Linked DNA regions of Homo sapiens. The protein of the gene in region 1 purifies or fractionates together with the protein of each later gene. This does not show direct contact. Each region holds a gene or a part of one and is shown in the gene's direction. Other genes may lie near its edges. The genes, in order: VAPB, OSBPL10, ARHGEF12 and LSG1.

Region 1 (7,906 bases):
TCTCAAGCAGTGTGTTTGGCTGTGTACTTTGTGTGGCTGAGAAATGACCAAGAGCACAGAGGTGCACGGGCCCCTGGGTAATGGATGATCAGGGACGGAGAGAGCAGATGTGGATGTGTGGTGAGGAGGTCTGGGAGGAGGTACTAGATACCTCTCAGGATGGGTGTGAAGACACTGGTGTCTCGGCCAAGCGCTGTGGCTCATGCCTGTAATCCCAGCACTTTGGGAGGCCAAGGCGGGTGAATCATGAGGTCAGGAGTTCGAGACCATCCTGGCCAACATGGTAAAACCCCGTCTCTACTAAAAATACAAAAAATAGCCGGGCGTGGTGGTGGGCGTCTGTAATCCCAGCTACTTGGGAGGCTGAGGCAGGAGAATTGCTTGAACCCAGGAGGTGGAGGTTGCAGTGAGCCGAGTTCGTGCCACTGCACTCCAGCCTGGGCAACAGAGCAAGACTCCGCCTCTAAATTAAAAAAAAAAAGACACTGGTGTCTCATGTGAATGCCCACTCAAAGACATCTACTGCAGCAGCAACTCTATTAATTGAGTGGACAAGAGGGCACATTCTGCAGACAACAGTCAGTCTTTCCCACAGCTGTGCCATTGCGTGCTCAATGAGCTTATTTATGCAGTGGCCATGGTGGCAGGTGTGGAGGCTCTGTATGGGCTTAGGAACATGGGCTTCCCCTTACCAAAGTGACCCGGCAGAAGAGACCAACACTAAAGCTTTGTTATGGCACCATTCCCTGGGGGAGGGCAGAGGAGCTGGGAACCAGTGTTAAAAAACCTATAAATGTGGCCAGGCACAGTGGCTCATGCCATTAATCTCAGCACTTTGGGAGGCTGAGACGAGCGGATTGCATAAACTCAGGAGCTCGAGACCAGCCTGGGTAATGTGGTGAAATCCCATCTCTACAAAACTTTCAAACATTAGCCGGGTGTGGTGGTGCCTACCTGTAGTTTCAGCTACTCGGGAGGCTGAGGTGGGAGGATGGCTTGAGCCCATGAGGTAGAGGCTGCAGTGAGCCAACATTACACCACTAAACTCCAGCCTGGGCAACAGAGGGAGACCTTGTCTCAAATAATAATTAAAAAAAAAGAAAAAACACAACCTATAACTACTTGGATATGTAAAAGAACAAAATAGAACTTATAGGCTTAAAAAAAAATAAACAAAATGAAAAACTCCTGAAACAGGTTTATCAATAGCCTAAGAGATAATTAGTGACTAGAAGAAAGATCTGAAGAACTATCCAGAACGTGGAACATAAAGAGGACAGATTAAGATGTGATAGAGAGGTTAATAGACATGGAGAAGGGCACAAGACTTTTCTCTTTTTCTTTCACAATCCACAGTAATAAATGTATTTTAGTTGTGACTCACTCCATAGATATGTGTATATTAATAAATACAACTGAAACAAAAGATTCATGAAATAATACAATACACTCCAATATATTATATTCTCGTTCTTTCTCAACACTGGTAACAATCTACTACATTGATTTTATAAGCCACTGTTGGAAAACAACCTACAGTTTGAAAAATATTAGTTGAATAACTACTAATCACACTACAAGATGTAAAGAGTGAGAGAACGAGGTTGAGATAACATTTATTTTTATTTCTTCTTTTTTTGAGACAGGATCTCACTCTGTTACCCCAGGCTGGAGTGCAATGGTATAATGGTTCACTGCAGCCTCCACCTCCTGGGCTCAAGTCCTCCCACCTCAGCCTCCTGAGTAACTGGGATTACAGGCATGCACCACCATGCGTGGCTAATTTTTTTTTTTTTTTTTTTGTATTTTTTGTGGAGATGGGGTTTTACCATGTTGCCCAAGCTGGTCTTGAACTCCTGGATTCAAGCAGTCTGCCCGCCTTGACCTCCTAAATTGCTGAGACTACAGGCATGAACCACTGTGTCCATCCAAGATAACATTTAACAGAGATATTGTCACGTATGATACAACACGGATGAACTTTGGGGACTTTATGCTGGGCAAAATAAGCCAGTCACAAAACGACAAGTATTGTATGATTCTGCTTACAAAAAGTACCTAGACTAGTCAAATTCACAGAGGCAGGATGTGGAATGATGGTTGCCAGGGGCTTAGGAGAGGGAGCATGGGGAATGATTGCTTAAGGGGTACAGAGTTCTAGTTTTGCAAGATGAAGGGAGCTCTAGAGATGGATGATGGTGAGGTCGCACCACAATAGGAATCTTGTTAATACCACTGGATACTTAAAAATGATAGAGAGTAAATTTTATGTGATGTGTATCTTACCACAATAAAAAAGTAAAATTAAATTGAAAAAAAAAAAGTATTGTCTGAGAGTTTTCAAGAATAATGAAAGACACCAATCATCAAATTCAGAAAGCCCAAAGAACTCAAGGCAGGATAAATAAAAAGATAACAGCATGAGCTGGGCATGGTGGCTCACGCCTGTAATCCCAACTTTTTGGGAGGTCGAGGTGGGTGGATTACCTGAGGTCAGGAGTTTGAGACCATCTGGCCAACATGGCAAAACTCTGTCTCTACTGAAAACACAAAAATTAGCTGGGCATGGTGGTGCGTGCCTGTAATCCCAGCGACTCAGGAGGCTGAGGCAGGAGAATCGCTTGAACATGGGAGGCGGAGGTTGCAGTGAGCTGAGATGGCGTCACTGCACTCCAGACTGGGGGACAGAGCGAGACTCCGTCTCAAAAAAAAAAAAAAAAAAAGATACAGCATGGTAAAACTGTAGAACATGAGAAGAGGGAGAAAAGACCAACAACCTATGAAGGAACGATGTTAAGATTGTCACTGGACTCCTGAGGAGCAATGAGGGGGAACAGGCAAACAGTGGATGGCAATCAAGTGTGCTGAGAGAGGACAGCTGTCATTCAAGCAAGCAAGCCAAAATATCTGTCAAGAACAAGGGCAAGGCCAGGCGCAGTGGCTCATGCCTGTAATCCTAGCACTTTGGCGGCTGAAGCAGGAGGATCACTTGAGCCCAGGAGTTTGAAACCAGCCTGGGCAACATAGTGAGATTTTACAGAAAATAAAAAAATTAGCTGGGCGTGGTGGTGCATGCTTTTAGTCCCAGCTACACCGGAGTCTGAGGTGGGAGGATTGTTTCAGCCTGGGAGATACAGGTTGCAGTGAGCCACGATCATGCCACTGCACTCCAGCATGGGCAACAGAGCAAGACCTCATCTCCAAATAAATAAATAAATAAAATAAAAACAACAAAAGGCAAAAATGAATCCATTTGCAGATGAGCAGAAACTGAGAGGATTTGCACCAACGAAGCTACAAAAAAATAAAATTTAAAGGATTTACCTCAGGCAAAAGGAGAGTGATCCTGTTGGTGAAAGCTGAGATGCAAGAAGAAAAGGTGGATAAAAATGGTAATTGTGTGGCTGAATCTAAACTAATGTTGACTGAATAAAACAATTTAGTAATGTCTCTTGGGGTTACAGTGGCAAAGGTTAAACTTAACATACACTACATTAAGGTGTATAATTTAGAGGATGGGTGATTAAAGTACTCCAAAGTCTTTATATTTTAAGGAAACAGGGTAAAGACATTTTTACAAATATTTAAAGATATTGGACTTTCACAAGGTAAGTATGCATGCCCAAAAGTTTGAAGTAACCACTAAAACTTAGAAATAGAGTATACAGGTGAAGAAAATCAGAATGAGAATAAAAATAAACCCTAAAGAAGAAAGGAAAGGGGAAAAAAACCAGGCAGGACAAATAGAAATAACAAAATACAATGGTAGAAATAATTCCAGATATATCAGTAAATATAATAAATGTAAATGGACTAAATGCTCCAGTTAAAATACAAAGACTATTCTTTTAAAAAACCTTTTTATCATGAAAAATTTCAAGTATACAGCAAAGTGGGAGAAACAGTACAAGAAAACCATATACCTGCGATGTAGAGTCAGCCATTGCTAGCAATTTGCCACATTTGTCTCACCTATATGGGTATGTATAGGAGACTATTAAGAACACCTATTTAACTTCCATAGTAAACATAATATAATGAAATACAATTTAAACGGTAATCATGATGTAGAGTATCCACTTTTGAGGTCAAGCAGATCTGGATTCTCCAGCAATTTTTAATTATTTAACTTACGTGTGTGGTTATTTATTCAAAAGATGTCTCTTCACTAGGCTATAGTAAAAGGATTGGAATCAGGTTCGCTTTTCTGATCATTGTATTTCTAAATATTTGTTGCATAAACAAATAGAATTTACTAGTAAAGAATTCAGCACAGTGCCAGTTGCATAGTAAACATTTAACGTAGAGTAGCTTGTATTTATTGTAGTTGCTGTTGTTATTGGAAGCATTCAGTAGAGTGATACAAAATAAATAAGCAATAATTGGTAGTTTATTATATTTATAATTATTATTTACAAGACGTCACAGTGCCTAGCCCATATCACTCACCCATAAACATTATACTTATACTAAGTACTTTCACTATTATTCAAAGTCTCTAACAGTGCCTGGCACTACATAAGCAAGAGAAAAGTGGAAGTTTATTCTAATTGTTATTATTGAATAAAGCACTTAACACGAAGCTGGCCCCCAGCGGGCCCTTAATAGTTTCCGCGGTGGCTGTCGTAGCTGGACTACAGACCCCGCCTCCTGAGCGGCCCGAAGCCCCGCCCCTTACTGCCCCGCAGTCCCGCCCCCGTGGCTTGTGCCGCGCCTGCGCACTGTCCCGGAAGGGGCTCTACGCGCGCAGCTTTAGTCCCCGCCCCTGGAGCCGGCGGCGCAGGGCGCAGCTTCCCGCCGCCAGAGCGGGCCAGCCTGCTGCGTGCGTGCGTGTGTACGACTCTGCGTGCGTGCGTGCGTGCGTGCGTGCCGTCAGCTCGCCGGGCACCGCGGCCTCGCCCTCGCCCTCCGCCCCTGCGCCTGCACCGCGTAGACCGACCCCCCCCCAGCGCGCCCACCCGGTAGAGGACCCCCGCCCGTGCCCCGACCGGTCCCCGCCTTTTTGTAAAACTTAAAGCGGGCGCAGCATTAACGCTTCCCGCCCCGGTGACCTCTCAGGGGTCTCCCCGCCAAAGGTGCTCCGCCGCTAAGGAACATGGCGAAGGTGGAGCAGGTCCTGAGCCTCGAGCCGCAGCACGAGCTCAAATTCCGAGGTAAGCCCCAGAGGCCGCCACCTTCCTGCCCGCGGCCTCCGCCCCAGTGCTGGAAGGACGGAGCCCGGCGCGGCGGGTGACGTCGGCCCTCGTCCCCACCCCGACGGCGCTGTCGCGGGGGGCGGCGAGGCCGGGCCGGGCCTTGGCGCTCGCCGCGCTCCCCAGAACTGCCCGGAGTGGCCGGGACCCGAGAGGGCTGGTGCGGGAGCCGGGGCCTGCGCCTCCTCCCCGACCCCCAGCCTCCTGGGACTTGCCTTCGAGGCACTTGTCACTTTGTAACTTACCAGTTTGTGATCCTCTCTAGTGTGAGCCTCCGCCGCTGCCTTTGCCTAGAAGTTTCTTCCCCTGCTCCGTGACAGTGTTGACCTCAGGGCTTAGTTGAGGTGTCAGCTGCTCAGAGAGGCCTGCTGTGACCACCCAGCCACCGTGCACACCTGCTGTCATTCCCTATTCCGTCACTGTTTCGTGGTCAGCACGGCACTTTTCATACCCAAAATCACTGTTTCAATACTAGAAGGGAAACTGCATGAGGACAGGCTCTTGTCAGTTCGCTGCTGTGTACCCAGCACACATTATACGCCTAGTAAATAAATACCTGTTGAACCAACAGATGAACATGTTGAACCAACAAATGAACCTCCTCAGGACTTCTGATGGGATTGGGCCCATTTTCCTTTCACTGCGTCCCTCATGCTGTCTCCTGGTTGCGGTGCAAGGAGGCTGCCACGGTGCTGGGATCCTTTTTCTCCGCAGAGCTGTCTGGAGCAACACCTGCGGCGATGGGAAGCCATGACCCTGGTTTCTCCCAGATACTATTACCTCTGTAATTTGTGCCTTTATGTTTTCTATGTTGTTACTTTTGTTTTTTTTTTTTTTTTCCTACCTTCACCAGGGCCACGAGGTAAAAGTTCTTGTCTGACATGCTCATTCTTTCTTTTTGCGTGTATCCAGTGATGTGGGAGGCTCTGGGGAGGTGATGGATGCACAAGACAGATAAGGCCTCTGCTCTCACAGAGCTTACCTTCCGACGAGGACAGACAAACCAACACACAAGATCATTGCAGATAGTGCTAAGTGCTGTGTAGGAAATGGAACAGTCTGACTCCATGGAAGCGTACTTTAGATTGGAAGGCCGGGTCTCCACTATATCGCTAGCACCGGACTCACAGTAGATGCTCAGTTGGTATTTATGAATGAATGAATGGCCAGAGGCTCTCCAGTTTATATGTCCTATTGGGAAGTAGTGTAGGGTAACTTACCCAAAGTTACCCAGTTGGCAAATGGTACATTTGAACCCAGACTTCAGAGTTCACGCTCTTAACCGTTTTGCTGTCTGATCGCTGGGAAATACTCCAGAACGGTGGCTGTCACTTTGCCTTCCAAGTTAACAATGTGAAATAACTCTGAATTTACAGAGAACCAAAGGCTTTCCAATTAAAATGAAAAAACCGAAAAACCCCACCAAACCTACCGTGGATTGTAATTCCAGGATAGTACTTGAGCTTTCATGATGTTCTCATGGCCTTCTGGGGATGCCAGATTGGGAAAGAAGTCCAGGTAGCTAAAGTGAAAATAGTGAGCCTTAGTTTCCACTTGAGTTGTCTGAAGTTCTTTCTCTATCTGGGAGGCCTGGCTTGGCTTCTCCTGATAATTGGTGGGTTCATTCGGTTAGTCCACAAACATTTACTGAGTACCTGATCTGTGTGTCAGATACCCAGAGAAGCCAAGTTATATCAGCTGTACTCTCCTATTTTCCCTCAACCTCCTCCCAGTACTTTAGGGAAGGGGGCAGATGAGAATAACAGCCAGGACAGGACAATGATGTAGGGTAGTCCAGAGTGCTCCAGGAGCATTGAGGAGGTCAACTCCTGAAAGAGGTGTCATTTGAGCTCAGTTATAAAGGTCGAGTAGAAGAAGGCTCAAAGAAGGAAAGGGTGGGGAACATTTCAGACAGAGGAAATTGCATGCACAGAGGCACAAACACTGAGATGACTGGGCTCCTTTGGGATGCCACTAGTAGTTTTTTTTTTTTTGAGATAGAGTTCTCACTCTGTCACCCAGGCTGGAGTGCAGAGGCGCCATCTCACTGCAGCCTCTGCCTCCCAGGTTCAAGTGATTCTCCTGCCTCAGCCTCTTGAGTAGCTGGGATTACATACAGGCATGTGCCACTACGCCTGGCTAAATTTTGTATTTTTAGTAGAGACGGTGTTTCACTATGTTGGCCAGGCTGGTCTCAAACTCCGGACCTCAAGTGATCCGCCCTCCTTGGCCTCTCAAAGTGCTGGGATTACAGGCGTGAGCCCGGCCACCACTAGTGGTTCTGAATGACAGCAACAAAGAACATTTGTTGTGGTTGCCTGGCAAGATGGGAGACAAGGCTGGTGAGTAGACAAGAGTCAGATCTCAGTCCCTTTATGCATAGATGCAGCCAGTGTCCAAGTTAAAATTGTGTTGCTTCTCCTTGAGCAGTCCTTCCTTGCATTAACTTTCTGAAAACCCCCAAATCCCAGTACAAACTCTGTTGTCTAATATGTTATGGAAAGAGGCACTCATTTGAGAAAATTTAAGATTTTGTTCAATTGTTTTACTGAAAGATGTGTGACCTTAGGCCACTTCACTCCTCAAAGCCTGGGGTGGTTATTCGGTCAATGGGGATGATGCTCGTGTCCACGTTGCCTCTTGTAGAACGTGTTTAGAAGGAATGACATGGCTGTTAGTGGCTTTGTAAGTGCATAGTACTATACAGAGATTAG
Region 2 (7,472 bases), on another chromosome or scaffold:
CCACTCACTTACTTGCTGGTCCATGAACATCCTCCTAAGGCTTTCTAACTAGAGGAGGGAGCCTCAGAAACAACTACTAGAAACTCCAGACCAGCCCTCCAGGTCCATGTGGAGAAGAAGATGGGGTAGTCAGCTCCCTACTAGGAACTACTGATTCTGTCCATTATTTCAAGAGGTATAATGTGTTTATCTTATTGCTCCAATCATGCATAGCTTCATTCCCAAAATCTTTACATGGTCTGTGATGGCTGTCAGATTTCCAGTCATTCTATTTACGTTTAAAATTTTTTCTAAGTGATTTATGCAATCTGGGTAAATTAAGGAAATGGTCCTTATATTGAGCATTTGTGTTTAGCCAATATTTTGTATTTTTAAAACATTTTTTGAGATGGAGTCTTGCTCTGTTGCCCAGGCTGGAGTGCAATGGTGTGATCTTGGCTCACTGCAACCTCTGCCTTCTGGGTTCAAGCGATTTTCCTGCCTCAGCCTCCTGAGTAGCTGGGACTACAGGCGTGTATGACCACGCCCAGCTAATTTTTGTATTTTTAGTAGAGACAGGGTTGTACCATGTTGGCCAGGCTGGTCTTGAACGCCTGACCTCACGTGACCCGCCCACCTTGGCCTCCCAAAGTGCTGGGATTACAGGCTTGAGCCACCGCGCCTGGCCTAGCCAATATTTTTAATCATACCGAAAGTGCCTTTGCAAAATTATGACAGTAAAAAAAATTCGACATAGCTGATTCCATCTTGCTTCTAACCTGTAAGCTGTCCTTGTTCATTCCCGGGCACAGGCCACAGCTAACTTTGGGAGGAATTTAGTTCATAGTCTAACCCTAAAGCAAGGATTGTAATATCCCTTTCCAAAACTATTCCCTCCTTGTTTGAACACCAAACTACCTTTGTAAAACTAATGAAAGGCCACAGGCTTAAGAGAGGTCTGAACTTTGCTAAGATAAAGGCATAGTTAAATGATAATCTGCCATTTTTCCAGAGGTCACAAGATTTCTAACCTCCCCATCACTCCTATAGATAACACCACTATTGTAAAACTTAAGATTTGTGTTTGAGGTGTTTTTCATACCCTGCATTCTGACGGACCAGTTGCCACCACCCAGTCTGGTAAACTGGCTCATCAGGTCCTGTGGCCCTTACTCAGGAACTGACTCAGTGCAAGAAGACAAACTTCGACTCTCTATAATTTCATCCCTCACCCAATCTATCAGCTTCCCCATCCTTAGCCCTCTGCCCACCAAACTATCCTTAAAAAAAAAAAAACCTTAGGTGGGCCCGGTACGGTGGCTCACGCCTGTAATCCCAGCACTTTGGGAGGCCGAGGTGGGCGGATCACGAGGTCACGAGATCGAGACCATCCTGGTGAACACAGTGAAATCCCATCTCTACTAAAAATACAAAAAAATTAGCTGGGCATGGTGGCAGGTGCCTGTAGTCCCAGCTACTGGGGAAGCTGTGAGGCAGGAGAATGACGTGAACCCGGGAGGCAGGGCTTGCAGTGAGCTGAGGTCGTGCCACTACACTCCAGCCTGGGTGACAGAGCGAGACTCCAGTCTCAAAACAAAAACAAAAACAAAAACAAAAAAAACCCCTTAGGCTCTGAATTTTCAGGGAGATTGATTTGAGTAATAATACACTCCTGTGCTCCAGCTTGGCTGGCCCTACAATTGTTAAACTCTTCCTCTATTGCAAAAACCTGCATTGGCTTTTCCGGGTAACAAGCAAGATGAAACTGTTGGGCATTACAGTATGTATTTCAAATACTTTTTGCCAACTTATTATGTATTTTCCAAATTGTTTTTCAAACATAAAGACTTTTTCCTCTCCAAACATAATTCTGCAGGTACCTTTTCCCTATTTGCTATACTACGGTAGGTCAAGGAAAGCTTTCTGGAAGAAGTGACTTGTAATCCATAACTCCATGGGTGAGAAACACAAACCGGGTGAAGAGAGCAGGGAACAGTGTCACCAGCAGGAGGAACAGCATGTGCTTCATCACTCTTTCATGATATAGCCTCTACTTTCAGCACATCTGCTCCACTCACCTCTTGGACATTTTTGATCCCATACGGCTGGCTTGCTCCTGCCCCATCCTGGCCTTGACTATTCCTTTTAGCTTAGTTCCTTCCCCACTTGAACTGGTCTATCTCAAGGGTCTAATTTTTTAGTCCAAGGTGAGAATTTGTTGTGCTAGCTCATTCAGTCTTAGGTTGGCTGCATAAGGTGGAGTAATGGTGGCATAGGTTAGGTAATATGAAATAAAATGACACTTCTCCTCTTTTAGCAGGAGCTTAAGGTGGCAGTCTCCAATAAAAGGCATGTTGTTTTGGTACATAATGCTGACATTTATAGTCCAGTATGCACCTACCTTCCCACCTTCAGTCTGTATGTCAATGCAGGACTCAATGAACACTCATATATGATCAGTAAGTTAGCTTAGGCAAAGCTATGCTGTGGTAAAAAATAATGCTAAAATCTCAATGGCTTCAAACAAACATTTTGTGCATGTTACATGGCCAACACTAACTGGCTTAGGATCTGCTGTATTCCACACCTTCTCACTCCAGGACACAAGCTTAAGGAGAGTCCTTATCCGGGACATGCTGCTCTCCTGGGATAAGGAAAAGAGAAAGATGGTGGAACCATATGACTGCTCTTAAAGCTTATGTTTGGAAGGGGCATTCATTACTTCTGTTCACATTCCATTGCTCAAAGCAATTCCATGGCCAAGCCTAAGGTCCATGTGGAGGAAGGATACTCTTTCCATAGGAAGCGGCAGTAAATATTTTGAACAAATGAACATTCTTGCATAGTTTATTACAGCCGGTATCATTTGTCCCATTTTGCAGTGAGAAAACTAAGGCTAAAAGAGGTAATTTGATCAAGGTCATAGGTTAGAATTCAGCTCTGAATGGCTTCAAATTTGGTCCAGGCAAGCTCTTTTCAGATTTTTTTTTTTTTAACACTATGTAGGCACCTGGAATTGTAATTTACTCAGGGGCACAACCACTTCTCTTCAACTCCAGAAGCTTCTCCGTGCATCTCTAGAGCTAAACCACCCATGAAATCTTCCTGGAAGGATGTGAAGCTAGAAAGGGGTTGGGCTCGGGGAACTGTCCCTTTGAGAGCTGACTTTTCCATTTAGTAATTTTTTTTAACTCTTGAAGTATTTATCTGCTTGATGGGTTTGTAGATCCTTTGGACGGAGATCACCTATCATCTATCACCTTTTGTTTTGTCTGTGTGTGTGTGAGAGAGAGAGTCTGAGTTCCTCAAAGCTTTTTTCTAGGTAATTTTTGATACTTCAGATTACAATGGATATCTATATTCACAAAAAATATTAGTGGGATAGAAAGAGTATCTTTAGGTAGGAAGAGGGGCGCAGAAGTTACAGCCAACACAGAGAATCCTTCAATGTTTGTAAATATCTGTTAATTTCCCTTGCCTCTGGAGCAGTTTTCCCGGTTTCAGAGCCTCTGCTCCTAGGTGCACGTGCAGTGTGGTAGCAATGGATAGGTTTTGACTTGCCAGGTTTATGCGTGCCATTCAGGGCAGGGGATTAGGGTTAGGCCAGTGAGTGACCTAGGACACTCAATTTAAGGAAGCACTCGCACAAACCTGAGAGTTCGCGCGCCTCACCCCAGCCCAGCCGTGTGTCTGTTAAGCATTTATCATAATCCTGCTGCATGAAAATGCCCGGCGAGCTTACCTGTGAGGATCACCTGCCACTCCCCTCCTCCGCCAGACAACGCGGAGGGCCTCCCTGAGCTGTGACTTTGCTCCGCCGGTGATAATTTCCAGGTTACTGTGTAGGAGCGTCTGGCGCAGCATCGTGTGCGGAAGACCGAGAGAGGGAGTGTGCGTGTGAGCCTGTCAGGCCGGGCGGGTCCATATCCGGGTGGACCGGGTGGGTGGGGCTGCCCCTCCCTCCAGGTCCCGAGGTGGATAAGGGGTGGGGAGTGACGTGCAGAGATTCCCTTTCGCCCCTTCGGATCCAAGAGAGGGTGGCAGAAGGAATGCGTGGGTGACTTGGCGTGGATTTAGGGCGTGCCCACCCTGCAGATCGGCCTCCTAGAGTGTCCCGAGGGCCTGAGAGGCCGCAGGGACACGAAGGAAGAGAAGGAGGAACCCGAAGAGGGCTCGCCTAGCCGGCCACCCGCTCCGAACTTGCCCGGGAAACTAGTGCGGAGGGAGGGGCCGGGCCCTGGCCGCGGCGGGAGGAGGGGCGGCCGCAGCTGCATCCAGCCCCGTTGGCTTCCTTCCCAGCTCTCCTTCGCCTCCTCCTCCTCTTCCTCCTGTATGAGTCAGGCATTTCCCGGGGATTTGGAGCAGGCACGCGCGGCCCGGGCGTCCGGAGCTGTAGCAGCAGCAGCAGCCGCCGTGCCGGGGCCGCCACCGCGGCGGGCACCCGCGTCCCGGGCGCCCACGGACCATGGAGAGGGCAGTCCAGGGCACAGACGGCGGCGGGGGTAGCAACAGCAGCAGCCGCAGCAGCAGCCGTGCTACCTCGGCGGGCTCCTCGCCCTCCTGCTCTCTGGCGGGCCGGGGGGTCTCCAGCCGGTCGGCGGCGGCCGGGCTCGGCGGCGGGGGAAGCCGCAGCAGCCCGGGCTCTGTGGCCGCTAGCCCGTCCGGGGGAGGCGGCCGCAGGAGGGAGCCGGCGCTCGAGGGCGTGCTCAGCAAATACACCAACCTCCTCCAGGGCTGGCAGAACAGGTAACGCGCCAGCCGCCCGCGCCACCGCGCGCCGCTGTGTGTGTGTGTGTGTGTGTGCGTGCGTGTGTGTATGTGTGTCTGTGTATGTGTGTGCGCGCGCGATTGTGCCTTCAGCGAACCCAGTGATGCCTCCCAACGGTGCCCTTCCTGCGTCCCTGCTCCCCTCCAGGTGGGGTTCTCAGGATGGGGCGCGCCGTGGCTCCACCCCGGGACCGCACCGCAGTGGCGGGGAGGGAGGCGAGAGCCCTGGTTTTCTTCTATGCTGGCACCTGCAGAGACTGGAGTGGTGGCAGGAGGATCGTGCTGGTCCCCGTGCTCTGCTTGTCCGCGGTTTCCCGCACGCCTGAAGAATGACTGGGAAAGGGAGGCAGAAGGGGCGTGCTTTGTGCCGGGGTGAAAAAGCGTTAGCACGTCCGCTCCGATTACAGTAATTCTCTAAGTAACAGTTCATTTTAAAGTTTGGTGTTTCAGAACACCACCACCATCAACAAAAAACCTGCCACTTGTCATCCTGGGCGACTGTGCATACTCCTGCCCCAGTTTGTGCCTTGCAGCCTCCGATGTTTGTAATGGAAGTTTTGTTTAAAAACAGAAAGAGGCCGGGCGCGGTGGCTCACCTCTGTAATCCCAGTACTTTGGGAGGCCGAGGCGGGCAGATCACGAAGTCAGGAGTTCGAGACCAGCCTCGCCAACATGGTGAAAACCCGTCTCTACTAAAAACAAAAAAAATTAGCCGGGCGTGGCGGCGCGCCTGTAATTCCAGCTACTCCGGAGGCTGAGGCAGGAGAATCGCTTGAACCCCGGAGGCAGAGGTTGCAGTGAGCCGAGATCGCGCCATTGCAATCTAGCCGGGGCGACAGTGCGAGACTCCGACTCAAAAAAAATAAATAAATAAAATAAAATAAAATAAAATAATAAAAAGAAAGAAAAAATACCCTCCCCCTTTTAATATTAGTAGCAATTTACATTATTATCATTATTTCCTCTTCAGGTCCCATTTGAAGTTTCCTGCTCACTTCCCCCTTGCAGTTGAGAAGCCTAGTTATGGACACGTGGAAGGATGGGGCTGTCGAGGAAAGGGGCTCAGGAGGCACTTGGAATGGTGGTAGTGTGTGTGATCTGCCATCGTGAGGAAGACAAGAACAGATGTGGCACTACTGTTTACTTTTTGTTTTTGTTTTTTTTTTCAATTTGTTTTCCAAAAACAAGCCAGAGGGAAATACAAGTGTCAGTGCGAGGAGAACAATGCTTTTTGGAGAGGTGGTTGGTGGGATATTTTGTCCTGCCTATTTAACAGTCTCCAGATCTTAATAGACTTGGGGCTCTTAAGGATGTTTGTGAGATTTGAATTATACCCTGGAAAGTTGCTTATCTCTGCTGCATGGACTATATTACTTGGTTATCTCTTCCTGTAGATTGTTTGGAAATGTTCAGATTTGCTTCCATCTGAAACATATCAGCCAGTTATCTGCACGAAACTCAACTTGGAGGAAGAGGTCTTTTGAAGTATGGAAACTGAGTTGTTTCTATATTGATATTCTACATATAGGACTTTCTGAGTCACCTGGGCTTCCTGGGAGATGTGTTACTATGTTAGTGGAAGTTGCACTTAACTTTTGAATCCTTTTATTTCTCAAAATAGTCCTAGTGTCTGCTGTTGCCTCTCCCTTCCCCTTTCAATTCGTGAAAGCTGAAAAAGAATAGGTAGAATGCGTAGGTAGAGGGAGATATGAGATGACTAAATCTGATTTCAGTTCTTGGTAATTATGTCTCGTTAATGGCAACTCAAGGTGCCTTGTCAGTAACAGCATTTTGTTGGTGTGTTGAGCAATCACTTAATGCTTTTTCTTCAAGTAGATTATGAGGCCAGCAAAGCTTTTACCCTGGATTACAGTTATTTTATTATTTACTTGCTGGGGAACAATATTTTACCTTGCAGTCTGTATTAAAGGATTTGTTATTTGGAGTGGATTTAGGAGGCATTGGAGTAACATTCTTTTGCATTATTTTAAACCCATTGTGGTGTTTAGATTGGAGGCAAGGTTGAGAAGAAGCACATTTAATGCCAATAATAATACCTACGTGATAGCAGGCTACCTAGGTGAAATGTGGTATTAAGTACACTCCTGAGCATGCTTAAGTGATGTCTCATCTTTATTGAGTTTGTTTACTGCAATTTATAGCTGTCTGCCTATGTTTGTTCTTACCACAGTAGACTCACCGTTTTCCAAGTCTACCACTGACTCCATAAGCATCGTCTGTAATTGTTAACATCTCAGTGTCAGGGTTTCTATTTCCCACATTTTGTTCTTTGAACGATGGCTGAGGGTCCATTAGTGGTTTGGAGAAGATTACGATGACTCTGTGCTTGCAAAATTCTCCCTTCTCTAGGGGTCTTATGAAGGGACAGATGGATTAGTGAAAAGGAAGAGAGAAGAGGATAAAAATAGAAACTTTGAAAATGTATTCATTTGTTCAATTATCTATTCACAGACTGTTTTATTGAGCACCTACTATGTGGCAGGAACTGTTCTAGGAGCTGGAGCTACCACCCTTCCCTGGTCCAGGGAAATGCCTTAGTACAAATAGTTAGCCAACTGATTCCTGCTGCCTTTCTTTCTGGGCCTCATAGCATCTTCCTTTGGCAGTTCTTTTCAAAGTGCCCACAGTTAATGACAAATCTATAGCAACCAAGTTCTTGGTTCATCCTCTCAGGCTGCTGTGCAATTGTAGTGCTCTTCACCAGC
Region 3 (7,550 bases), on another chromosome or scaffold:
GGAAAGGGAATATTTAGAGATAATTTCATTAATCTAGTCAGAAATAAGAGTCAGAAAAGGACTACCACTGCTTCCCCCACCTCCTTCCATTGTACTTTCTTTTTTCTTTCTTTTGATTTGGTAGAATTATAGGCTCAGTTTTAAAGCATGTCAAGATTAAGATAATGAATGACAAAACACTAAAAAGTGAGTAACTAGCAGGAAGTTAGAGTTTTAGGAGTGAAACTTTAGAGAGAGGTTAGGAAGAGATAGAGATGTGAGCATCAGAGCCATGAGACTTCCTGGCATCTCTCAGGAAGTGATTGTAGAGCAGAAGGACAGAGGATGAGAGACCTAAGTGGAACCTGTTGCCTAAAGAAACATGACAGACATTAAGCTAGTGATGAGAGCAGAGAATTGGTTATTTAAAACCTACAATATTTTTTATACCTTCTCCTGAATTAACAGTCTTAATAATTTCTGATGGTTGGAATAACATTGTCCCAATAACTCTATCATTGTCTGGGTGACCTCATAGCATACACTTGGCCCATTCAAAATTAAATTGGTTCTTATTTTCAGTAAATGTATGTATCTCATAAAATTAGAGGAAATAATATGCATATAGTGTCTGGATCTGGAAAAAGCAGAACTTTTTTTTAGCTTTTTCTGTCTAGCTTAACACAGCCTTTCAACATTCTTAAGAAGTACCTTTAGGGTATTATTCTAGTTATATAGAAGAAAAAATAGAGGCATGATATTGGTTATTGAGGAGTTCTAAATAGTAGTATCTCCCTATTCAGAATGCTTAGATCTTTTCAAGTTTAGTTTAACGTTAAATCTTCTCTAAAAGATGGTGCTTTATTTCATCTTCAAAACAAAATGGAAAATGATTGTATGAAGTAAGATGATTGTATGAAATTAATAATTAACATTTTAATATGTCATTAAAAGATACTTTTTAAAGATAGATCATTGGTAAGTCAGCTAATTTAATTCTTGCAGCCTGAGGTTATAGTTGTGAATATGTTTTTTTTCCCCCTCCTTCCTAAATCGTTTAGTGGGTTTGTTGAAGCAGTTGCTGGTGCAACAGCTAGGTTTGACTGAGAAGAGCGTTCAGGAAGACTGGCAACATTTCCCAAGATACAGAACAGCCTCTCAGGGGCCGCAGACAGACAGTGTCATCCAGAACTCTGAAAATATTAAGGCCTATCATTCTGGTGAAGGACATATGCCCTTTAGAACTGGAACTGGTGACATTGCAACTTGTTACAGTCCACGGACTTCAACTGAATCTTTTGCTCCACGGGATTCAGTGGGACTGGCACCCCAGGATAGCCAGGCAAGTAACATTTTAGTAATGGACCACATGATTATGACCCCAGAGATGCCTACCATGGAGCCAGAAGGGGGTCTTGATGACAGTGGAGAGCACTTTTTTGATGCCCGTGAAGCACATAGTGATGAGAATCCATCAGAAGGTGATGGAGCAGTTAACAAGGAAGAGAAGGATGTTAATTTACGCATCTCAGGCAAGTATCTTTCACACTTAAACTTTGATTTTGATTTTGATCATTGTTAACTGTCCTGTATTTTGAAATGGATGTTGTATTGGTATCCAGGTGTGTGTGTGTGTGTGTGTTCACACATGTGCAATATTTATTCCTTCATTTGATAAATACTGAATCTACTCTGTACCAGACCTCATCATAGGTGCTGGGAGATATAGCAGTGAATAAAACACAGAAAAATCCCATCTTCTCATGAAGCTAGGGGAAAGAAGGATGGTAAATAAGTAAACAAATAAATAGACTTCAGGAAGTATTAGGAAGAAACATAAGTCAGACTGAGGGGACGGAGAGTAATGAAGGCAAACAGGGTGATCAGGGATTAGGACCTCCGATGAGGTAGCATTTGAGCAGAGACCTCAATGAAATGAGGGAATAAAGCCGGGTGGGTACCTGGGAGCTTACTATTCCAGCAGAGAGCAGAGTGGGGCAGAGGCTTTGTGTCAAAGAGCAAGCTTTTTGTGGTGATCGAACACTGGATGAGGGAGACAATGGCAGGAGATGGGGCAAGAGAGGCGTTTGGCAGGGGAAGTGGTAGCAAGATCATTTAGGCACTGTAGTTTCCAGCTTTAAACTTTTGAAATGAAATTTTTTGGAAATTACCATGAAAGTTTGCAGAGTTTAGCTTTCATCTGAAGTGAGGAAATTCTGATGTACCTGAAACTAAACTCAGGAATTAATGGCTTTTCCCTCTCTTAATAACTTTTCAAGTTGAAGTTGTCAGCACACTATGCTATTTCTGTTTTCTAATGGCAGCACTGGTCTTATCAAACTATTCTGTCTCTATCCATAGGAAACTATTTGATCCTTGATGGCTATGACCCAGTGCAGGAGAGTTCCACAGATGAGGAGGTTGCTTCCTCACTTACCCTGCAGCCCATGACAGGCATCCCTGCTGTGGAATCCACCCACCAGCAGCAACATTCTCCTCAGAATACTCACTCCGATGGGGCAATTTCACCATTCACCCCCGAATTTCTGGTCCAGCAGCGCTGGGGAGCTATGGAGTATTCCTGTTTTGAGATCCAGAGTCCCTCCTCTTGTGCAGATTCACAGAGCCAGATCATGGAGTACATTCATAAGATAGAGGCTGACCTTGAACACTTAAAGGTACCTCATACTTCCACATCCATAGGACTTGGTTGTAAGAAACATTTAGCAGAGGGGAAGAATAGGGTGATGAAAATGCTGATGTCAATAAACTTGTTCAGGTTCTAGATTTCTTTGACTATTATCCATGAATAGGCCTGGGTAAAAAGTTGAGATTGGCATTGTTTATCTTTTTCTTTCTTTCTTTTTTTTTTTTTTTTTGAGACGGAGTCTCGCTCTGTCAACCAGGCTAGAGTGCAGTGGCGTGATCTCAGCTCACTGCAAGCTCTGCCTTCCAGGTTCACACCATTCTCCTGCCTCAGCCTCCCAAGCAGCTGGGACTACAGGCACCCGCCCCCACGCCCAGCTAATTTTTTGTATTTTTAATAGAGACGGGGTTTCACCATGTTAGCCAGGATGGTCTCGATCTCCTGACCTCGTGATCCGCCTGCCTCGGCCTCCCAAAGTACTGGGATTACAGGCGTGAGCCACCGCGCCCAGTCGGCATTGTTTATCTTTTGACTATCACAAGAGCAGAAAAAGTTGCAGCTCTGTGAACTGTGTGTTTGTATGGGTGTCTAAGTTTAAGAACCTGAAATGCTTCGGGTAGTTGGCTGGCCTCTGTCAGACATGAACAAGAAGATGAGATAGGTAGGGTTTATGTAGTTATGAATCTAGGCTGAGAAATGCTATGACTTTCTGTAGCCTATTATCTGTGACTCATTAGGTGACATTGGCAGCTTCCCAAATCCTATGACAGATAGAAATTGGCTTCAGTGGCTCCTGTAATCTAAAAACATGGTCATGCATGGGATTTTTGTAGATTGGTAATTGAAGATGTCACTATTGCAAAACTGACTTGTGTGGCAATTTCCAAGAGAAAGACCTATCTTAAAGTTTTCCATCAGAGGCAGGGCACGGTGGCTCACGCCTGTAATTCCAGCACTTTGGGAGGCAAGGCAGGCGGATCACGAGGTCAGGAGATCGAGACCATCCTTGCTAACACGGTGAAACCCCGTCTCTACTAAAAATAAAAAAAATCAGCCAGGTGTGGTGGTGGGCGCCTGTAGTCCCAGCTACTCAGGAGGCTGAGGCAGGAGAATGGCATGAACCTGGGAGGCGGAGCTTGCAGGGAGCTGAGATCACGCCACTGCACTCCAACCTGGGTGACAGAGCGAGACTCTGTCTCAAAAAAAAAAAAAAAAGTTTGCCATCAGAAAACACAGCTTCCAGAGCCCAAACATTTTCCTCATGACATCATTTACACCAGAGACTTGAGGGGTAGATTTAAGTATCCTTAGCCTTTGAGTTAAAGACTGGTCTCCCTTAGTTTCTCTTTTACCTTCATATAATTGATTTTTCCCTCTTCATGTTACTTATTTTATGTAGTATCATTCTGTAGCTGATGAGATATCGACAAGCCCATTGAGGACAGGTCGGTTCTTATATACAGTCATGTGTTGCTTAGCAATGGGGATATATTCTGAGAAATTCATCATTAGGCATTTTTATCTTTGTGTGAACTTCACAGAGTGTACTTACACAAACCTAGATAGAATATATCTTTATTTACATAGATTTTTTCATATGGAAAGCCAAATCTCTCAACACTATTACTGAATATTAGTCATTTCCCCTACCTGATCAGCAATGCCATTATTAAGTGCCACACACCAGGTTTCTACATGTGCTCCATAATAATCTTTTTTTTTTTTTTTTTTTTTTGAGACAGTCTTGCTCTGTCACCCAGGCTGGAGTGCAGTGGCGCTATTTCGGCTCACTGCAACCTCTGCCTCCCAGGTTCAAGCGATTCTCCTGCCTTGGCCTCCCAAGGAGCTGGGACTACAGGCACCACCACCATGCCCAGATAAATTTTTTTTTTTTTTTAAATGGAGTCTCGGTCTGTCACCCAGGCTGGAGTGCAATGGTGCAATCTCGGCTCACCGCAACCTCCGCCTCCCGGGTTCAAGCGATTCTCCTGCCTCAGCTTCCTGAGTAGCTGGGATTACAGGTGCCCGCCACCACACCCAGCTAATTTTTTTCTATCTTTTAATTTATTTATGTATTTATATTTTTTGAGACAGAGTCTTGCTCTGTCGCCCAGGCTGGAGTGCAGTGGCATGATCTCTCCTCACTGCAAGCTCCACCTCCCAGGTTCACGCCATTCTCCTGCCTCAGCCTCCCCAGTAGCTGGGACTACAGGCGCCTGCCACCATGCCCGGCTAATTTTTTTTATTTTTAGTAGAGACGGGGTTTCACCATGTTAGCCTGGATGGTCTCGATCTCCTGACCTCGTGATCCGCCTGCCTCGGCCTCCCAAAGTGTTGGGATTACAGGCGTGAGCCACCGCGCCCAGTCCCAGCTAATTTTTATAATTTTAGTAGAGACAGGATTTCACCATGTTGGCCAGGCTGGTCTGGAACTCCTGACCTCAGGTGATCCACCTGCCTCGGCCTCCCAAAGTGCTGGGATTACAGGCGTGAGCCACCATGCCCCACCCATAATAATCTTAAGGGACCATCATCATGTATGCAGGCCGCCATGTCTTTATGTGCTGCATGACTATAGCTCATGCACATGATGACGGGACCATGTCCAGGGTGACTCCTGGGGGTGGGAGAATTGCATCTATGGTTACCACCTCTACTTTCTTTTTACATGGGAAAATACTAAGTTATTCCTTCAGTGGAGAAATTGGTAAAAGGAATGAAATTTACTTTTTTCTTCCCACTAATGAAATTTTTAATGATGAAGTTAATATTTTTGAAATTTGGGGGCTTGTACCTGTAATGTAAAAAGGGCTTCTTTTCTGTTTTCTGAAGTTTTTGTTTTGTTTTGTTTCATTACGTTTGAATAAAAAACCTATGGGTTTTATTTCACAGAAGGTGGAGGAAAGTTACACCATTCTTTGCCAAAGGCTGGCTGGATCAGCCCTCACAGACAAGCACTCAGGTATGTAAAAGTTATGAGTTCCAGACTCTAGACTAATCATCCTACACTGAATGAAATGACTTATCATACTTTGAAGTGAAAACCTTCTGAGATTCCATTTCTCTTCTGTCTTTAAAGAACTGCCTGTTTCTAAACATCAGATATCAAGCGGAAGCTCATGCCTGCTGACTCTACTCTTCTCTAAGAGGAACTGCAGTTGTCAGTTCCCATACCATCCCCTCTTCTCTCTCTTTTCACCTTTTCAAAGCAGAAGGCAGAGCAGTGGGAAGCCTGGTAAATCACAGATTCGGTGTGAGGCTTACTGGTACTGCTGTGACTCCCTAGTGTGGAGGATTTGGCCTTATTGGATGTTGGTGCACTTGCCTCTGCTGACAGTGTGGCTGGTGTCTCCCCTGACTGCAGATGGATTTGTGTTCCCTGCAGCAGTTTATACTCATCTGCTTACATACTGATTCAGAAACAAAGATTGAACCACGCCCACAGATGTCATGGGTATTCTTTGCAATGTTAGTATATTCTTTTTCTTAATATCATTTCCATGTATCTTTATTCTTCTCAGATAAAAGTTAGAGCCGCATGTCCTGGAGGTGACTGCAGGTTGTTGGATTTGGAGTATCGGCCGTGTCTCACCACATCCTGGCTCCAGTGTGGATGCAGAGAGAGTGTGACAGAGGATCTGCCTGTGAACCACCTGGGATTAGTCAAGTCCCAAGGTGCCCAGAGTGGGACTAGTTCTTCACAGTGTGGCAGCTGCACTAATCTGTTTGTGAGGGAATATCCATTCCCTCACTCTACTCTCCTCACTATCGGAAATTCATTTTGATTCAGAATAAAAACCAAATGTATAGAGCTTTGGGTGTAGGATATGAAATTGTACTTAGATTTAAGAAAAAGAGAAAATCAGATGTATTTATTTGACTTCATTCCGTATTTGAAAGCACATTTTAATTTTTATTTGCCTTGTTTTGTTTTAATTGAGTAGTGAGAGTTTTAGACCTTTGTCTTTAGTACACCCAAGGATCAACTGCTCCTGAAGCAAAGAGGTCAGGATGGAGTATGCAGAAGTTGGGTAGAGAGGTTAAGAAGAGGAGGAAGTGAGACGGGGAAGGGAGGAGCACCTTGCTTCACTATACAGTATTCCAAGCTCTCTGCTGTCCAGTAGGCTGCTTCTCTGAGGGTCACCTCAAAGGTATGCTATGCCGTGTGGCTCTTATGTGCCCAGGTGGTGTGGTCAGAGAGTGGATGGGCTTCCTCCCGCCCTGAGGCAAGCACCTCTTCTCTGTAGCTGGGATCAACCACAATTAATAGGAATCCTCAACATACTAAATAGCAGGCACTTGAAAATGGGTGTGTTTTCTTCCATTGTCGTCTTTTCTATTGAGGGTTGGGATTTGGGTGGGAGAGGAAAGCAAATTTTATTTTCTTGACTATAAATTTGTTATTCTTGGTATCATTTCATTTTTATAATTATACATTAGACATTGGCACTTGTGTAAAACTGTCCCTGCAGATTGAGCAGGAAGTAAAAACAAATGGAAATGCTTCGGATAGTGGCAGGGGTGGGGGTTGCTAAGGAAAGGGTGGGATGGGAGTGGGTAAAGAGTTTGGGAAGGTTATCTAACTGAATCACTACTGAGTTGAATCATGGCTATCATTAGCCACAGGTACTGCTGATTATAAGGCCAGTAAAATTTTAGTACCTGGAGGTTTGACTCTAATTTTTGCACTGATGGTGCCAAAGGGCCCTGAGTCAAAAGGATAGCCAAGGGTGGAGTGGAAAAAGATATGGTGAAGGCAGAACTGCTCACACCAGCTCCAGAAGCACGTCCTCTGACTTCACTGCCGCAGCTCTTTCCACACGGGGCCGTGATTGACCCTAAAAATTGCAGACCAGCACATACACTGGACACTGCAGGCAAGGTGTTGGTAACTGCCTGCTCTAGGATGAATAGTAGCGTTAGC
Region 4 (8,083 bases), on another chromosome or scaffold:
TCCATCACCTTTTCCTCATACGACATAGTTGTGCGTTCCAGCACCATCCAGGTTTACATGCATATATATATTAGGATATTTACTATGGTTTACATGCATATATGTATTAGGATATTTACTATGGGGAATTAAGGAGATGGATCACTTTCAGAGACAAAACATAAAATCCTGGTGGTCAGAAGCCCTCTTAATGGAGTAAGGTCTACCTGGTGGTGTAGTTCATGGCTCCCTGACTTGAGCTCTTTAACCCTGGCTGAGTCTCTCTATTAGGCTGATCACCACTAAAGTGTAAGCTCTTCAGGGCAGGGAGTTCGTCCAGTGCTGAATCCTCAGAGTCCTGTGATGAATGAACCAATGAATGAATGAATGAATGAATGAATGAATGAATGAGTGAATGAATGAATGGATGAGTGAGTGAATGAATGAATGAGTGAATGAATGAATGGGAGAAACCTAGGACTTTCCATGTACAGATTTTAGAGTTGGTGATTATTAATTCTACTTCTAGCCTCCTTTATTTTACTTTATTTGCTTAACTTAACCCTATTGAGACTCAACTTCTACAGCTAAAAGTGCAGTAAAATAACAATACCCTTTTTCACTTGACTGTCAAGAGGGAAAAAGTAATTGCAAAGGCATCTCTGAATAAAAGACACTAGATATTCCATACATAACACGAGTTGAGAAAAAGTTCGTGGGTTCAAATACATAGGATCTTGTGGCCTGTGTCACCAAAGCAAGAGGTCTTTTACACATTTCCTTGCACAGGCAAGAAATCAATGTTTGATTGCAGGGACTCAAATTAATCATTATAATAGCCACCAATAAATGTCTGCTGACAGTAGGGTGACTATGGTTGACAATATTGTGTTGTATATTTCAAAATAACTAGAAGAGAGGATTTTGAATGTTCTTACCAGAAAGAAATGATAACTGAGGTGATGGATATGCTGAATACTCGGATTTGATTATTACACAATGTATACATGTATCAAAACCACCTCATACATACATACAATTATTATATGTCAATTTAAAAGATTTTTTAAAATCTGCTGAATTATGAAACTCGTGAGAATCCACCCATTTTCAATAGGGATAAACTGAGAATGGCAGTTAATCATAGGGAGTTTCCCTACTGATTCAATTACGCTCTACAGAGGCTGCCAGTGTCTATTTTCACAACTCTCAGTCTTATGCAAACTGTTTTAATGTCCTTGTAGAAGGAGGTGGTGTATCGTATGGGAAAGAAGGAGAGACCAGACTGCAAGCTCGCCTTGGAACAACTTTTCTGCCACCAACTCATTTTTGGCCAAAGTATGACAGGAAAAACAACAGAAACCAACCCACTCTTTCCTCTCCTTCCTCAGACAGATGTGGAGCCCAGAGGCACAACAGTGTGGACTTGGAAAGCTGAAAGCAACTCCAAAGTTTGTTGCTGGGTGTGGGTTTCAGAGCTTGTAACTACATTTGTTGAGACGCGGTAGAAATCAAGCATTATGCAACCCCATGAATAGGGAACACTCCCTGTGTCACTATTTAGAAGCTGGGTGCCAGGCTTCCAATCCCCAAATCAATGCAGCCTCCTCCAGGAGCCAGCTTTTCAGAGAATCCTGGCTTTAACGGAAGCGTTCAGCTACGTGGGGAATCGGGAGGATCTGGCCCATCTTCCAGTCACAAGCCTGGTGGGCGACAGTTTCCGCTGGCGTGAGAAAGCAGTGACAGGGGTTCGGCTAGGTATTGCTGTTCCTGAAGTGTGTGGGTGAAATGGTTTCTGCAGTTGGAGGGCAGGGACCTGGACTGATTCATCTTTGCAACCCCCTCACTTGGGCAGCAGCCAGCACCTTGCTCCACCCTCCGTCACCACCATCATCACTCCCCCACGATCTTACCTCCTTCCTTTTAATCTGGGTCCCATGATCTTGTCTCATCAACACCTTCAATTCCTTTCCTCCTTGTCCTTCTCACTGAACAGTTATCCAGCTGGGCTTTCACCGTCATTGCTTAGTTTTTGGGGAAAGAAAACGTGTTCAGCTGTGCCAGATGATACCCCCACAAATTACTAGGCAATCACCTTGCAGCATTATCTCATTTGTTACCTCTTCAGGGCAGGAATTGTTATTAGCCTCATTAACCAGATGAGAAGACTGAGACTCAGTTGTCTGTCATCGGTAGATTTTCGTAACGTCTTGGGAGAAATATTAGGATTATCTATCCTTTTCTTGTCAGCTAGGAGTAGTTGCTGCTAATTAAATCTTTATGACCTTTTGACTCCTCACCACTCCTGATTATCACTTTGGTTTATTTGGTTAAGTTTTTTTTTTTTTTTTTGGAGACGAAGTTTCGCTCTTGTTGCCCAGGCTGGAGTGCAGTGGTGCGATGTGGGTTCACTGCAACCTCTGTCTCCCGGGTTCAAACAATTCTCCTGCCTCACCCTCCCGAGTAGCTGGGATTACAGGTGCATGCCACCACACCGGGCTAATTTTTCTATTTTTAGCAGAGACGGGGTTTCATCATGTTGGCCAGGCTTGTCTCCAAACTCCTGACCTCAGGTGACCCACCCGCCTCAGCCTCTCAAAGTGCTGGGATTTCAGGCGTGAGCCACCACGCCTGGTCTTATTTGGTCAAGATTTTTTAAGCCCTTAGAAAAGTAACAGTGGAAAACCAAAGTGTTTATTTTCTCCAGAGGTGACAAAATCTGGAAAAAGAAACTAGATGAAGTCCCAAGTTCCTGGTTGAGCTCTAGGAATGAGATGGTGAGTTTCTTTATCTCACCTCCTAGTATTATTATTAAAATGTGAAATCTTACTTCATGAGTTAGTTTGACCTTTAACCACTTAGCTCTGGAGAGAATGCCGGGAGCTGTCTGCTAATTCTATTTCGTGGGTCTTCTTCATATCTTACTTCTGGAGATTATGTGTAGGATTTTAAAGATACACTGTTTCTAAATTGAGAAATGGGAGAAATGATGTTCTGATGCATTCCTTTGCTCATCTGTGAGCACTGCCTTCTCAAAGCGTTGCCAACTGCTTCACAGCTTGCCAGCAGTCCCTTGGGCATTTCCCAAAACTCACTTCAATTCAGTAAGAGGGGTAAGGTGCAGCACACAGAAACCCTGGCAGGGAATTCAGAATGGGTGGGAGTCTGGACCCAGTTTCGCCTGATGCTAACTTGCTATGACTGACCTTTAGCCAGTCCACTTCTGTGTCTTCATTTGCACCAGGAAAGAGTGGACTACGCTTGCTACTCAAAGTGTGACCCAAGGACCAGTACTATGGGTATCACCTGGAAGCTTGTTAGAGCCACAGGCCTCACCCCAGAGCTTATGAATCAGAATCTGCATGTTAACAAGATTCCCAGGGGATTTATATGCACATTAAAGTGTGAAAAGCCCTAGGTTAAACAGATTCTTGATCCTATTTATTTCTTTTTGGCTGTTGTTTTAATTGACAACTAAAAATTGTTTATTACTTACGTTGTACCGCATAATGTTTTGATATATGTGTACATTGTGGAATGGCTAAATCAAGCTATGCTAGGTAATATATGCATTACCTCGATCCTATGATTTAAAAATACATGTTTGGCCAGGCGCAGTGGCTCATACCTGTAATCCTAGCACTTTGGGAGGCCGAGGCGGGCGATCACCTGAGGTCAGGAGTTCGAGACCAGCCTGGCCAAAATAGTCAAACCCTGTCTCTACTAAAAATACAAAAATTAGCTGGGTGCGGTGGCACGTGTCTGTAATTCCCGCTACTCGGGAGGCTAAGGCAGGAGAATCACTTGAACCCGGGAAGCAGAGGTTGCAGTGAGCCGAGATCATGCCTTTGCACTCCACCTGGGGGACAGCGAGACTCTGTCTCAAAAGATAAAAATAAATAAATAATACATGTTAACAACCCTCATTCCCCACTCTCCCCAGGGGTGTACAGGCTAGTGACAAGACTTGGGTTTATTCCTGACACTGCACGCACTCAATCTACGACTTGCTCAAGCTGCTTCCTCTCTCCAAGCATCAAAACAAAGAGATGGTTCTCTGGATCAATGAGAATGTAGTTCACCAGCCACTCTAAGCTGACTTTCTATTATTCCCATTATAGGGAAATCAAACATTCAAGTGAGGAACAAAAGCCCAGGCCTCTAGGAGTGGAGCTGGCTCACTGTTTTCACTTTCATTTTAATTATTTTTAAAAAGGGTAATGAAAATATAATTAGAACTGTTTAAACATTTTTTTTTTCTTTGAAATAAAGCGTAAGTCACTTCCTGTTGGCTTTTCCTACAACCTTGCCAAGCTCTGGAAATACTATTCAGCCTCTCATTCCAAATTCACATCCAGGCGAAGACTTTTCTCCCCAGTTCGCAGCTGGGGTCGGCTAGATAAACAAAAAGTTAGTTGCTGTGCTGGACCTCGGAGAGACCACACCTCGGGACGCCAGCAGAAAACCAGCGCTGGGAAACGCCCCCGTCCCAGCGCCACCGAAACACTCTTCCTCCGAGTCTCCGCGTCCTCCTGACGGAAGCAGCGGAAGGCGGAGCTAGTGCCGCGAATAGGAACCGCCATGTTTCCGACGTGCTCTAGTTTCTCGCCGGACGCTAAAGACCGACGCACAAATTAAGAATGGACCATTCTTTTAACTCAGTCATTTATCCAAACTCGAGACATTCGCCAGGAAATCTATCGAAAATTTCCCAGAACCATTTTTTCACTTATATTCTATAATACTGGTAAAATCGAGACGTAAAAGGAGAACTTGAGAACAAGTCATTCTGCTTTCCCCTCTCAAGTTTGAGCCTGAACTACTTGGGCTCGCTTATCGTCACTTCCGGGGATCGAACTGTGAATCCCGGAAACTGCACGCGCCGAGCCGGGAAGCTTCGTCCAGCGGTCGTGTTGCCATGGGCCGGAGGAGAGCCCCGGCCGGTGGGTCGCTGGGACGGGCCCTTATGCGCCATCAGACTCAGCGGAGCCGAAGCCATCGTCACACTGACTCCTGGGTAAGACAGACCATGTCATCTTTCTTATCTTTTCTGTCTAGCCTGAGTGCTGCAAAATTCGGGGTCAAAAGTCAGATAAGTTTTGCAGGAGGGACGCCTCAGCCGGGTTTTGAAGGATGAGTTGGAGTTTCTGCCAAGCTGAGTAGCAGGCCCTCCTCCTGGCAAGGCCCAGAACACAAAGGTAGGAGAAGCTTGAAAGAAGAGTTAGTGTGGTGATGAGGCGTGGAGTGAGAATCTGAAGAGTCTTCAATGCCAGGTCTTGAGTACGTTTGGGTTTTGCCCTAGAAGCCACTGAAGTGCTTGGAACTTCCAGAGCAGGAAAAAGACAAAACGTATTTTTGTATTGATTTGTTCAAAGAATGGATCCTCCAGAAGCGGTTGGTTACTGCCAGAAATATAAAATAATTCAGATCCTTGCCTCATCCTTGCGAAGCACCCCCTAGTGGTTTAGCTCAAAGATAAATCATTGATTTTTCAGGTGTGACAAGACCTAATATTTTACTAGGTTATAGAAGGATCTTTAAAAAAATGAATGAAGTGATTTGGCTTGTGTTCATCATTCTAGTCGTTATTTTCACCATTCATTCCCCCGGGAATGAATGAGAACATGTTGAGTGCTAAGATCGTGTGCTAAATTTAGTTAAATATGTCCCTGGAGCTAAGTAAGCGTGTGCCACTGTCACACCAGCTGACTTTCATCCATATAGTCTGCAGAGTAAACAGCATGGAGTGCTTATCAGTATTCATCAGGTCAGAGTTACTCTGGACATTAGATTACTGGTAATTTTTATTAGCTTTGAAGCAACTTGTTACTAATGAAGCCTTTTAGGAAACTGTGGGAAGATTGAACATGAATGGTAAAGAATTGGATCCTAATTCCTTATTTTTGCTGATTCTATGCCCACTTAAACTTTTGGCCCTTAATATTTATTTAGGAAATTCATTCATCATTCAGTTATTCATTTTTAGAGACAGGGTCACACTCTGTCACCCAGGCTAGAGTGCCAGTGGTGTGATCATAACTCACCAATTCACTACAGTCTCAAACTTCTGGGCACAAATAATCCCCCTGCCTCAGTCTCTTGAGTAGCTGGCATTACAGGTGCACACCATCAGGCCTGGTTGTTTGGTTTTGTTTGTTTGTTTTGGAGAGACAGGGTCTTGCTGTGTTGCCCAAGCTGATCACAAACTCCTGGCCTCAAGCAATCCTCCTGCCTTAGCCTCTTGAGGAGCTGGGGTTACAGGCACAAACCACCACGCCTGGCAATTTTTTTTTATTTGTATCTATACTAAGTATATAGCTTAGGGTGATGGTTATCAAACTCTGGGTTGTGTCTGGAAGTCAATTTAGTGGTCTGCAGCTAGCTGTTTTGTTTTGTTTTTATTTTTTCCCCAGCAAGATAGAGAAATATCAGAATGTTGCATGTAATAGGGTGTGGTTTCAGTATTCTTCTATTGCCATTTTACTGTACTGAACGGTACTTGAATGCTTGTATCATTATATGTACATACACCTTTGGGTCACTATGTAAAATGTATTTCTTATTGTGGGATTATATCAAATAAAGTTTTGACTAATTTTGACTAGCACAGTCAGACAATCTGGGTTCAAGTTCTACCTGTGCCATTTAGATTTTGACTATAGGCAAGTTATTTTATCTGCTGAAGCCTTAGTTTCATCATCAGTAAAATGGAAATACAGTAAAATTCACCTCAAAAGATTTTGAAAATTAATGAAATGGTGAAAGGGAACTGCCTATTGTGAGGTAAGAACGTGTTCCTTTAAACATTAACTATAAGTAGTATTGATTCTAAAGGGACTACAACCACCCTCAAGACCATAGACTAGTTGCAAGGAATTTTAGAGCTTATTGGATGCCAAGAGCAGAAGAGAGCAGCTGTATTTATCACCCTGTGTTTTTTCATAGTTGCACACAAGTGAACTCAATGATGGCTATGATTGGGGTCGTCTTAATCTTCAGTCAGTGACTGAACAGAGCTCCCTTGATGACTTCCTTGCTACTGCAGAACTTGCAGGAACAGAGTTTGTAGCTGGTAAGTTGTTTATTGCTGAGTGCAGGTGAGACTGTCACATTTCCATCTGGGGCTGAGGTTTTTTTTGTTTTTTGTTTTGAGATGGAGTCTCGCTCTGTCACCCAGGCTGAAGTGCAGTGGCGTGATATCAGCTCACTGCAGCTCCGCCTCCTGGGTTCAAGCAATTCACCTGCCTCAGCCTCCCAAGTAGCTAGGACTACAGGCACGCACTGCCACGCCTGGCTAATTTTTGTATTTCTAGTAGAGATGGGGTTTCACCATGTTGGCCAGGATGTTCTTGATCTCCTGACCTCGTGATTCGCCTTCCTTGGCCTCCCAAAGTGCTGGGATTACAGGTGTGAGCCACCGTGCCCGCCCTGAGTCTTGAACAATGAGTAGATGTTCAAAGGACAGATGAGATAAGACCTTTTACACAGACAGGCAGAGGACTCGAGCCCAGATGTGAAGCAGCAGCCAACTTTGTTCAGAAAATGGCTAGAAGTTTGGCTTTGCTGGTGCAGGGGGCGGGATGTGATGAGCACAGGTGCTGAGGAGGTGGGCAAGGGCCAGATTCTGGAGAGAACAAAGGTTTAAGGCTTTACAGGGCTTTAAGCACGTGTACAACATGATTTCAGATTTCATTGTTTAGTGTTTTTTGGGGGGATGTGTGGGTTCCAGCTTTAATGAGCTACACAATTGGCAACTAAAAATTGTATATAGTTATAGTATATAGTGTGACGTTTGGTTATATGTATATATTGTGAAATGATTACTAAAATCAAGTAATTAACGTATCCATCACCTCACATTGTTTTTTTGTGTGTGCGGTGAGAACAAGATATATACTGTCTTAGCAAATTTCATATTATTAACTAATAAATGTGTTATTATTAACTATGGACACCAGGCTGTACATTAGACCTCCAGAACTTATTCATCCTGCCTCAGTAAAACTTTACCGTTTGACCAGTATCCTCCTATTTGCCCCACTCCCTAATCTCTGGTAACCACCATTTTCTCTCTGCTTCTATGAGCTCGGCTTTATTCCACGTA

The links.
Region 2: the proteins of VAPB (region 1) and OSBPL10 purify together in Homo sapiens (affinity purification with mass spectrometry; 6 studies listed by BioGRID and IntAct, with this or other methods). This does not show direct contact.
Region 3: the proteins of VAPB (region 1) and ARHGEF12 purify together in Homo sapiens (affinity purification with mass spectrometry; 5 studies listed by BioGRID and IntAct, with this or other methods). This does not show direct contact.
Region 4: the proteins of VAPB (region 1) and LSG1 purify together in Homo sapiens (affinity purification with mass spectrometry; 5 studies listed by BioGRID and IntAct, with this or other methods). This does not show direct contact.

What each region holds. Positions count from the first base shown.
Region 1 is NC_000020.11:58,384,365-58,392,270, forward strand, and holds the start of VAPB (vesicle-associated membrane protein-associated protein B/C), read left to right. Parts: upstream 1-4,864; 5' UTR 4,865-5,095; coding exon 5,096-5,153; intron 5,154-7,906. UniProt on the Homo sapiens protein: Endoplasmic reticulum (ER)-anchored protein that mediates the formation of contact sites between the ER and endosomes via interaction with FFAT motif-containing proteins such as STARD3 or WDR44.
Region 2 is NC_000003.12:31,978,152-31,985,623, reverse strand, and holds the start of OSBPL10 (oxysterol-binding protein-related protein 10), read left to right. Parts: upstream 1-4,361; 5' UTR 4,362-4,444; coding exon 4,445-4,725; intron 4,726-7,472. UniProt on the Homo sapiens protein: Probable lipid transporter involved in lipid countertransport between the endoplasmic reticulum and the plasma membrane.
Region 3 is NC_000011.10:120,478,920-120,486,469, forward strand, and holds part of ARHGEF12 (rho guanine nucleotide exchange factor 12), read left to right. Parts: intron 1-1,040; coding exon 1,041-1,511; intron 1,512-2,340; coding exon 2,341-2,657; intron 2,658-5,518; coding exon 5,519-5,588; intron 5,589-6,147; coding exon 6,148-6,158; 3' UTR 6,159-7,550. UniProt on the Homo sapiens protein: May play a role in the regulation of RhoA GTPase by guanine nucleotide-binding alpha-12 (GNA12) and alpha-13 (GNA13). Acts as guanine nucleotide exchange factor (GEF) for RhoA GTPase and may act as GTPase-activating protein (GAP) for GNA12 and GNA13.
Region 4 is NC_000003.12:194,668,977-194,677,059, reverse strand, and holds the start of LSG1 (large subunit GTPase 1 homolog), read left to right. Parts: upstream 1-4,868; 5' UTR 4,869-4,897; coding exon 4,898-4,996; intron 4,997-6,924; coding exon 6,925-7,051; intron 7,052-8,083. Other genes in the region: uncharacterized protein LOC124909474, read left to right, coding at 1,224-1,417. UniProt on the Homo sapiens protein: Functions as a GTPase. May act by mediating the release of NMD3 from the 60S ribosomal subunit after export into the cytoplasm during the 60S ribosomal subunit maturation.